Linked DNA regions of Homo sapiens. The protein of the gene in region 1 interacts with the protein of each later gene in a biochemical or structural test. Each region holds a gene or a part of one and is shown on either strand. Other genes may lie near its edges.

What was found. Proteins that work in one complex are often made in the same cells at the same time.
Region 2: the proteins of MYB (region 1) and HIPK2 form a complex in vitro, tested with the Homo sapiens proteins (one study listed by BioGRID).

Annotation. Positions count from the first base shown.
Region 1 is NC_000006.12:135,214,971-135,220,240, forward strand, and holds the end of MYB (transcriptional activator Myb), read left to right. Parts: intron 1-428; exon of another isoform or gene 429-530; intron 531-1,910; exon of another isoform or gene 1,911-2,893; coding exon 2,894-3,010; 3' UTR 3,011-4,202; downstream 4,203-5,270. UniProt on the Homo sapiens protein: Transcriptional activator; DNA-binding protein that specifically recognize the sequence 5'-YAAC[GT]G-3'. Plays an important role in the control of proliferation and differentiation of hematopoietic progenitor cells.
Region 2 is NC_000007.14:139,560,573-139,566,271, reverse strand, and holds the end of HIPK2 (homeodomain-interacting protein kinase 2), read left to right. Parts: 3' UTR 1-4,702; downstream 4,703-5,699.

The sequences.
Region 1 (5,270 bases):
TCATTTTTGAGATACTCAGTTCCTGGAAAATATTATGATAATCCATCTTGCTATGTAGTATTTCAAGTTATATGTTGAGCCTCTGAGCTTGCAGAGTGAACATTTCTATTCATAGACAGTGCTGTTGACATCAGTGGGGAGATGGCACAAGCTTTGTGCCCTAGGAAAGTTTAAAAGCTAGAACATTACACTGCAAACCCTATGTCAGGAAACTTTGTTGCAGCAACTAGGCAAGGAAACCCTACCACTGTACCCATACCTTGTTTTAGTAGAATTATGTTTCTTTGCTAAGAAGTCTGGTGACTCTCACACCCCATCTCAGCACTTTCCTGGATTCCAAGGCCCTGGTGCCCTGAGCACACAACTTCCCAGGTTCCTTTTATTGTTTCTGATAAGAACTCGAATTAGAGGCAGCGTCTGGTACTCACCAGGGGTGTGGTCCCATGGGTGACATTCTTGCTCCATCATTTCTTACCCAGGTAACCTTGAGTATGGCGCCTAAATCCTCTCTTCCTTTCAAATTGCCTGGTCTGTAAAATGGATGCAGTGAATGGTAGCTATGCCACAGGTGTTTTGTGTGAGAATTAAATGAGAGGAGTTATATCAATAACACTTAGAGGCATGCGGTGCCTATAGTGAGGGCTTGTTTTATGTTGTCGTTTAACCCTTTCTTTCTCAGCCCTCCCCCACTCCACATCCCCTCCCACTGGCAATGTACAAATTGCAGCTTCCTGCCTCTTTCCTGCTATCTCGCTCCCTGGATGACATCCCTGCGTTTCCACCTCTCTCTCCCCTAATCTTAGCTGTTTTCACCCTTTCCCCACAGCATTGCCTTGACAGTTCCTCAGTGTCCCATCCCCTCTTCCCATGGACAACACCACAAACCTGCGCACACGGCCTGTTATTATTCCTCCTGTTTCACCTGTGTCCATTCTGTCTCATAAAGGACACTGTAGGCTCTGAACAGCTAAGGCCTTTCTTATTCTTTTGTCCCATGGAAAATAATCCCTCCAGATAGCAATACCAGGAATAGTGCCTTTTCTAACCCACTGGTTTCCTTTTGAGCTTACAGCCACCAAATCTTATATCTGTTTGTTTCTGTTCCCCTCTCTGCATTGACTGCTAGAGAGATCAGAGTCAAGCAGGAGGTTACATCTAGCTGGGGCACTGTGCTTTATGCTGGTGTTTCGTGTGCAAATCTCATACCATCTTCATGTTACAGTTGTTCCTTAGTGTCCATGGGGGATTTGTTTCAGAACCCGCAAGGACACCAAAGTCCAGGGATGCTCAAGTCCCTGATATAAAATAGCATTGTGTTTGCATATAATCTACACACATCTTACCATATAATTTTTTTTATTATTTGTATACATTCGTGGGGTACAAGTGTAATTTTGTTACATGGATGTATTGCATAGTGGTCAAAGTCGAGGCTGTGAGTGTATTTATCGTTGGAATAATGTACATTGTACCCGTTCATTCCTGTATACTTTAAGTCATCTCTAGATTACTTATAATAGCTAATACAATGTAAATGCTATGGAAATAGTTGTTATATTGTTAGGGGATAATGACAAGGAAAACACCTATACATGTTCAATACACAGCAATTATTTTTTTCTGAATATTTTTGATCTGCCATTGATTGAATCTATGGATGTGGAACCCACAGATATGGGACCCACAGATGCAGAGGGCCAACTGTGTTTATTTTTTCCAAATTTGTTTCCCTGTTATGACTCTTCTTTATACACATTTTTAAACTCTGTTGTCTTGTATTTCTTTTCTAATCATCTTACGTCCTTTTGGAAACCAAGTGGGGCATAAATAGTACATGTTTGCATTTGAGGCAACACAGAGGCATCGCAGGAGCTGGAGACAGCAAAGTTCAAAGCCAGTCCACCACTTACCTACAGAGTGGCCTTGGGCAAGTTACCTCCATTTTCTGTCTCCATTCTCGAGCCTGTCTAGAGAGAGAATGAACCTGCCTCCCGAGGTGATGGTGCTGTTTTAATGAAATAATGCATGTGAAATGTGAAGTGCCACTGTCCCTGGCATGGAGATGCTGTCCTTAGATATTAGGTCCATCTTGTATCTTCTAGTGTATCTTTAAAAATTAAACTATACTGGCTTCATGCCTGTAATCTCAGCACTTTGGGAGGCCAAGACCGGCAGATCACTTGAGTCCAGGAGTTCAAGACCAACCTGGGCAACATGGTGAAACCCTGTCTCTACAGAAAATACAAAAATTAGTGGGGCTTGGTGGCACGTGCCTGTAGTCCCAGCTGCTTGGGTAGCTGAGGTAGGAGGATCACTTGAGCCCAGGAGGCTGAGGCTACAGTGAGCTGTGATTGCACCAATACCGATCAGCCTGGTATGACAGAGCATGACTCTGTCTCAAAAAAAAAAGGAAAAAAATTAAACTATACTGATAAATATTTCTAAAGTAATTGATGAAAACATATATATGACACTTAGCAGGTGTTGATCAATTCCAGTGCGTGCATGAGCTGCTTTGCACTGTGGCTACAGCACTCAGCAGTTTGCTTAGTGAGTAGATGGCCATAGCTCACTTTAGGTATCTGGAGAATAATGCTCATTCCTGTCTCCAGCTTTGTAAAATTGCCTAATAGACGGAAGGCATTAAAATATGAAGATGGGATTATATCTTATGAAGCTGCTTGGAATGGGTTTTCCCTCTTAACAAATAATTTCTGATCATCCATATCCCTTAAGAACACCGGATTTCTGGGGGCCAGGGAGGTAAGATTCTATCTGACAAAGCCTTCCTGGTGTCAACCACTTGCCATCTGTTGGTCAGTGCTGGCCCTGCTGGGTCTATAGAATGAGCTTCTTTGTCTGACGCTCCTGTTGCCATCCCTTTCTCCATCAGCCTTGTAGCAGTACCTGGGAACCTGCATCCTGTGGAAAGATGGAGGAGCAGATGACATCTTCCAGTCAAGCTCGTAAATACGTGAATGCATTCTCAGCCCGGACGCTGGTCATGTGAGACATTTCCAGAAAAGCATTATGGTTTTCAGAACACTTCAAGTTGACTTGGGATATATCATTCCTCAACATGAAACTTTTCATGAATGGGAGAAGAACCTATTTTTGTTGTGGTACAACAGTTGAGAGCAGCACCAAGTGCATTTAGTTGAATGAAGTCTTCTTGGATTTCACCCAACTAAAAGGATTTTTAAAAATAAATAACAGTCTTACCTAAATTATTAGGTAATGAATTGTAGCCAGTTGTTAATATCTTAATGCAGATTTTTTTAAAAAAAACATAAAATGATTTATCTGTATTTTAAAGGATCCAACAGATCAGTATTTTTTCCTGTGATGGGTTTTTTGAAATTTGACACATTAAAAGGTACTCCAGTATTTCACTTTTCTCGATCACTAAACATATGCATATATTTTTAAAAATCAGTAAAAGCATTACTCTAAGTGTAGACTTAATACCATGTGACATTTAATCCAGATTGTAAATGCTCATTTATGGTTAATGACATTGAAGGTACATTTATTGTACCAAACCATTTTATGAGTTTTCTGTTAGCTTGCTTTAAAAATTATTACTGTAAGAAATAGTTTTATAAAAAATTATATTTTTATTCAGTAATTTAATTTTGTAAATGCCAAATGAAAAACGTTTTTTGCTGCTATGGTCTTAGCCTGTAGACATGCTGCTAGTATCAGAGGGGCAGTAGAGCTTGGACAGAAAGAAAAGAAACTTGGTGTTAGGTAATTGACTATGCACTAGTATTTCAGACTTTTTAATTTTATATATATATACATTTTTTTTCCTTCTGCAATACATTTGAAAACTTGTTTGGGAGACTCTGCATTTTTTATTGTGGTTTTTTTGTTATTGTTGGTTTATACAAGCATGCGTTGCACTTCTTTTTTGGGAGATGTGTGTTGTTGATGTTCTATGTTTTGTTTTGAGTGTAGCCTGACTGTTTTATAATTTGGGAGTTCTGCATTTGATCCGCATCCCCTGTGGTTTCTAAGTGTATGGTCTCAGAACTGTTGCATGGATCCTGTGTTTGCAACTGGGGAGACAGAAACTGTGGTTGATAGCCAGTCACTGCCTTAAGAACATTTGATGCAAGATGGCCAGCACTGAACTTTTGAGATATGACGGTGTACTTACTGCCTTGTAGCAAAATAAAGATGTGCCCTTATTTTACCTACTTTTGTTTTCTCTCTTATTTGTCACTATGGACAACAGTTACACTTTAAAGAAAATGGAGCAGACTCAAGGCACTTTCCTCTAATAATTGCACACCATATGCACTTCGTGTGAAGAAGCCAGGAATCATTACAATGGAAAAGAAAGAACAAGCAAACTGAGTTAAATAGTTCACAAACAATCACATGGACAATGGGGAGGAATCTTCCAGAATGCATCAGTCAGGGTCTAGCGGCATTTGAGTGCGGATGCTGTAAGGGGAATTCGTTCACAAATGTACTGATACCACAGATGTGGGCAGGGGCTAGGAGAGCAACAGGGTGCAGGCCTGAAGGCACCTGGAAGGCCGCCTGGAGGGGGACAGTCAGGAAAGCAGGAGCCCTTGAGAGGAGCACTAGCCTTTGATGAGACCACTGCCATCGAAGGAGACCTCACAGGGAGGGAGCCAAGGGTAAACCCTAACTTTGTTTCCCCATTTCTCCTATCTCTGCCTAGGGGTCCTCACTGGCAGAACCAACCAGAAGCTGGAGGACAAGGGAGCTCCCATATGGGAGCCGGCCTGTGAGCCTTCAAGGGTATGCGGAGTCGTTTGTTCAAAATAGCCCCATTTCACAGATGAATCTCTACTGGCTCCATCTTCAGCTTAGTGTTCTCTTCACTATGCTGTAATATCCCTTTTAACATAAATTCCTTTAAATTTCCTTTACTCACTCTGTTCCAATTCTGAATTCTCATGGGCATGATACACTTGGTGTTCATAGAGCCAAGGATTTGTTACGCCTAATTACTAGTTTTTGAGTCAATTTGGTGGACTTTTACTGTCCTGCTGATAGATGACGTGACACGTCTTCCCAGTGTTGGGAAGCTCTTTATATTCATGCCCTCTCCGAGTATTTTTCCAAGCGCTGACTCTGCCACTTACTAGCAGTTTGAACTTAGACAAGTCACTCACATCTCTGAGCCTTTTTTCCTTATCTGGGCAATGAGTTCTTTCCCACAGTGAAACTTTTATTAAGTAATGCACTATACAAATGTTTGTTATTATGTACACTTTCCACAGTCCAGTGAT
Region 2 (5,699 bases), on another chromosome or scaffold:
CTGAGCTTGCAGCCATTAGCCACAGCTGTCTCCTGCATGTCTGAGCAAAGAAAGGCCTTTACACAGCATCACCCTGTGCCATCCCATGCACCGTGGGACTCAGCTAAAGGACTGTGCAAAGAGGGGGCTCCTGAGTTGGATTTAGGCAAAAGGGGCAGAATTCGTTTGATTTTTAGAGAAAATCTCTGGAGAGTTTCTTTTGATTCATAGAATTCCTTTTAGATTTCTTTCCAGCATACCAACTAGCTTTAGTAGTGCTGCTACAACCAGCTCTTATAAGTAAGAGTGAAAAAGTATTCTTTTCTTCTTTAAAAAATAAGTTTTTCTTGCTTATAGTTAATTCTAGAAAGGCAATACTAAAGGTATATATTTTTTTCAAAATGCTATTTTTTACTGCACTTGATAATTATCCTGACAGCTCTGATCTCTGTAATAGATTCACTCTTCAGCTCTGGGCAGAACCAGAGGCAGGGTTCACACCAAATTTGTAAATACCATATGTGGGTCTGGTGTCCAGGAACTTTTTTCTTTCTGTTAAAAAAAAGAAAAAAAAAAGAAAAAAAAAAAGAAGTAGAGGTGGAAGAAAGACAAGACTTAGAGGAACAAAAGAATGTTTTCTTTTGAGATACTCTTCTCAAAGAAATAGCAACAATTGTATAAACAGGAAAACCAGCCAGCTTTCATGATAAAAGGAAGGCGTGTCTCTTGCCCTGGTATGAGATTAACAGAAATACAGATGCATTTTTATTTTGATTGAAAGATGGTGAGAATGTAGAAATGCTTAGGACTAGATTTTTAATTTTTTAAAATAACTATTATCATTTATTATGAAATATTTGTTCAGTTGTTTTGAGTGGGTTTCTTGTTCCTTTTTTCATTTAAAACCTTCTTTGTTGACTGGCTCCAGGCTTGTTTGCCTAAATTCTTAGGTAGTTTACACAAGTTCTAGAATCTTTTAGAACTTTAACTCCATTGGAAGCAAACCTAACTAATCGGAGTTTGAGATCCTGGTTGGTTTCAATAGGTATTCTGGAATTCTGGCAGAACACCTAAAGATTTTTTTTTTTTTTAGAAGGTTTTAGATACATTATCTTACACAAACTGTGACCTAATGGCAATAATTACCTCAAATGTGGGCATTCATCCTGGTTTTAGCCTTTTTTGAAATCATGTAGCCAGCTTGATCTTGGAATTTAAAGACTATGAATTCTCTGTGGGCTGAAAATAATGATTACTTCATACCCCCGGTCATCGTTGCTTAAGTGAATTCTGAAAATAGCTCATCTTTACAACAAAAATTAAACCAAGGAAGAGATTATTCTTTGTGTGTTGTACTCAAATGCGATGTTCAAATGCACATGTTAAGTATATATGTTTTTAGCTACTGTAAAATGCTGTTAGCCTTCTAAGCTATCAAAACAGTCACATTTTAAATGAGTAAACTAAACAATTGACTGTGGATACTTAAGCATATTTCTGGCTACGTTTTATAGTTAAAGTGTTTTATAGTTTACATTTAGACTGGTACTTTTTAAAGAAAAGTTCTGTTTATAACTGACATCCGCAAACCCCAGTGAATGCCTCTTAGTTGGAGGTTGTGTCTCCCCCAAGGCAAGTGTGTTGTCCCAGACTCTTCTGTAGTCCAGCATGCGCACTTCCCTCTGGATTATTACTTTCCACGTGAACTCAAGAGAACATGAAAGGCAATCCAGATGGAGGGAAAAGGTGTGAGTCCGCAGCCCGGGCCAGATGCGAAGGTCTCATGCGTGTCGTCTAAACACTTGTCTTCAAGGCCTTCTCTCTGACATCTTGGAAGAGTCATTGAGAACAGATAACCTGGTTCATTGATTTTTGTCTTGATTTGAATATTTAACTTATTAATAGATCCACTGATTTCCAGGCACCAGGCAGTAGAAGAGACTGGGATTCAGGTGACCATGAAGGCACAGCTGCTACTTCTGGGCCGGGGGTGATATTTTGATCAGCGTTTTGTAGGGGAGGACCATATACCCCTATTCCCATGGTCGCTGGCTGGGTTTTCCATATATCTGCTGTCATTTATTCGTTTTCCCCTTAAAAGCAAAATCAATGTAAAAGGCTATGTTTACGTTTTACTCATTGTCCAGCTTAGACTCAAAGTCTAGTTCGGTGGGAGGGGGACCTTAGCATCCTCTCAGAGATGGTCAGGGCTGAGCAGGAGGAGGCAGAGACAGAGGGGCAGCTCAGCCTGGTCCATTGAGACCCACTCTAAACAGACATCATATTTGGAACAAGAAGATGCTTCGAGACAGGAATGGGCCCCACTGTCATGCAGAAACAGACTGGGGGAATGGCAGTTTCCCTGAGTCTTGGTTTCTTTTATGTTTTCTCTTGTGCCACCACCAAACTGCAGAGGACCTGCTGTGACCTAAAGGGCATTCCTTTAGCAGATAAGACCTTGAAAACTGCAAAACACCTGGGACCAGGGAGCTTTTAAAAAATACAAAAAAATACCACATTTGCTTTTTCCCTGTGAACTGTATTGACAGCGTGTTCTTAGGACAGTCTTTTGGTGGAAATGTTACTGTAAAATAGTTTTCATCTCACCCCTCCTAATCATACTCCCACTTTCCTGTTTGTGTGGTGGTGTTGCTGTTTTTTCCTTTACATGAATTAACCAAATGAATTTTGTGTCATTGTTTTTGGGGCTTATATTTTTAAAACATAGAAATTGCCTTTTGTTCATTTGAAAAGTAAGTATGTTGTATCTGAAAAAGGGCTCTGCCTCTGCTCTCCCTCGCTTCCTTGTAACCAATCTCCAAACGAATCTCTCCTGGCACCGCCCCCTTCCTTATATAGGGTCACTGTCCCCGGGGCCACCTCTGCCTCCACCCTGCTGTCACCACTGCCCTGGGCCAAGGCACCCAGGACTCCCAGAAAGCGCGAGAGCCAGCAAGAAGGCCCCACTCAGCCTTGAGACTGGTGGTCACACCTCCCTGTCAGAGTCGCCTGCTGGGCTGAAGGGGCAATGGATTGTCATTGTTGAAATTGTTTGGCTCAGGTTATAAGGAGGAACTTGGGAAGTAGAAAGTGACTTGACCATGTGCATCCTTGGTAGCTTCCTGTAACTAACAAATGGAACAGAGAGCACACCCCCGCCCCGCCCCACCCCAAGCAGATGTTCCCGTCAGCGCTGCCCTGAGTCAGTCGGTCCCCCGTTTCTGCTCTCCTCCCTTTTGTGTTCCTGCTCACTTCAAGCTTCTTCCATGGACTTTCCAGGGCACAGTCATCTCTAGCCCCCAAATCATCTCTTCATCCTCTGTGTGTGCATTTTTTTAACCAAATGAAATAGACAAGAAAGTCATACTTTGGGGCAGCAGAATTTCTAATTTAGTAGAATCACTGTATAGAGATAGATGTTGATATATATGTTTGTGTATATATATCAAACCAAATTGGATAGGAGAAGTATAGCTTTACAGATGAGGAGAAGGAGCTCTTTAGAGGTCGGAGTCAAGACTGGTGTCTTGGACGTGCATGGGCTGTGTCCCAGGCCACTCCGCACACATGGGGCTGAGGCGTGGCGCCGGGCCCTTGTCATCCACCTCACCACGGCAGAGCCAGCAGGCCCTGTAGGGTGCTGCTGCTGTCTCACTGGGTCCCAGCTTCAAGCGCATCAGTGGGTGACGGGGGCAACAAATCAGAGTGACTGGAAGTTTCCATCCCGTTTTGCTTTGACCACGTGTACTGAGCTGCAGCCTCTGATACTCTGTCACGTTTCCAAAAATGGTATCCATTAGGATAGAAAGAGAATGGATCTGCAGAAATGTTTACCTTTCAACTGCTCATGAATTCAGGACACTGGATAGAAAGACTCACTCCCCAAAATGAGAACAGGGAAGAGGAGACCCGGCGACACTAAGTCACCAGGTCCAAGGAACGTGGCTCCCTCCCCAGGGTCATCTCACCTAGATCTTTCTCTCCCAGGTCATCTCAGCTCAATCTCAATAACCCTATGAAAGCCCTGGTCTGTTGTGTTCCTTCACCGTACGGTTTCTGTAATAAAAAGTGTTAATCCATGTTAATCTGTGTGAAAATTATTGCGTGCAACAGTATTTTCTCGTGTACCTCTTTTTCCTATGTGAATTGTCCCTCTTTTTTATTTATAAATGTCTACTTTTGTTTTTTTAAAGACAAACCAATGTGTTGTAGACCTATATGTAACCTATTCCTTAGTCTCATATTATAGGTATGTTATAAGAATGGATATTTTACTTGGCTTTAGAATGTTTTACAAGAAAACTAATTCTTAACTGATCAAGTCCTTGCTACTAAAATGCTTGTGTTTTTCATCATGACGTCGTGTGCTTCTAAATTAATCATTTTCGTTGTAGAAAAATGGAGTGAATTTATATTAGTCTTGGAAACTAATAATAGCATTGTAAATTTATGAGATGATTTTAACAGAAAAAATATAGAAGAATATAGTTATTTTAATTGTAATATTACTAACTGTAGGGTGAGAAAAAGGGGGGGGGGTCCCATTGTGGTGAACTATGTTATAGCTTGTTACTCATAGTTTCTTTTTGATCATTTTTTCGGTCTCCGAGGTGAAATGACTTATTAATTAAAATTTGTAAACTCACATATGCATATTGTATATGTGTAGAAATGTAATCACACTTTGTCTTGGAATTACATTAAACTGTTTGAAATCACTGTACACCTGCCTGGCATGCTTATTTATCCTGGAACCAGACCTGTCATAAAAGCGAAGAGGTTATTGTTACAAGTAACATATTTGGGGTTTGTTTGTTTATTTAGATGGAGTTTTGCTCTTGTTGCCCAGGCTGGAGGGCAATGGCACGATCCTGGCTCACTGCAAACTCCGCCTCCCAGGTTCAAGTGATTCTCTTGCCTCAGCCTCCCGAGTAGCTGGGATTACAGGCATGCACCACCACGCCCGGCTAATTTTGTATTTTTAGTAGAGATGGGGTTTCTCCATTTTTTGGTCAGGCTGGTCTCGAACTCCTGACCTCAGATGATCCACCTGCCTCGGCCTCCCAAAGTGCTGGGATTACAGGCATGAGCCACTGCGCCGGGCCGAGATTATTTAATGGCTCTGGAAATGTGTAGAAGCCACCACTGCATTGAACATTTGCAGAGAGAGGTGGGGGGCCTTGAGATCACATTACTACCAATTCCCATGCAGTTGAGTGGGGCTAAGAGTCTCCCAGCTTCCTGCTGCCTCTTCCAAGCCATTTCAGCCCCATCTGCTCCCAATCTCTGTCCCTGACACCTAAGGTGTGGCTGTCACCTGCTGTCCTGGAAGCTTTCCAATATGCATCCCGGATCCTCCGCACCCAGGCCCTGCCGTCTCACCAGACACCATCAGCACCCGGAGCCTCGTGGCTTGCTGGCCCATTGCCAGGGCCCTTGCCACTGCGCACTTGAGCTACGTGCGCCACAGCCCCGTCCAGGCGCTGTGCCTGCAGCAGCTCCACCTCAGCAAGCCTAAGAAACGCCACATCCTGCTGGGACTGGGGTTTCCCAGCCTTCTGACACTCTTTTTGTCTTAAATTATGGTAAAATATACATAATATAAAATTACCATTTTAAGTGGACTACTAGCAACGTTAAATACGTTCACATTATTGTATAGGTGTCACCACCATTTCCAGAATTTTTTCATCATCCCAAACACAAGTTCTGTCCCCATT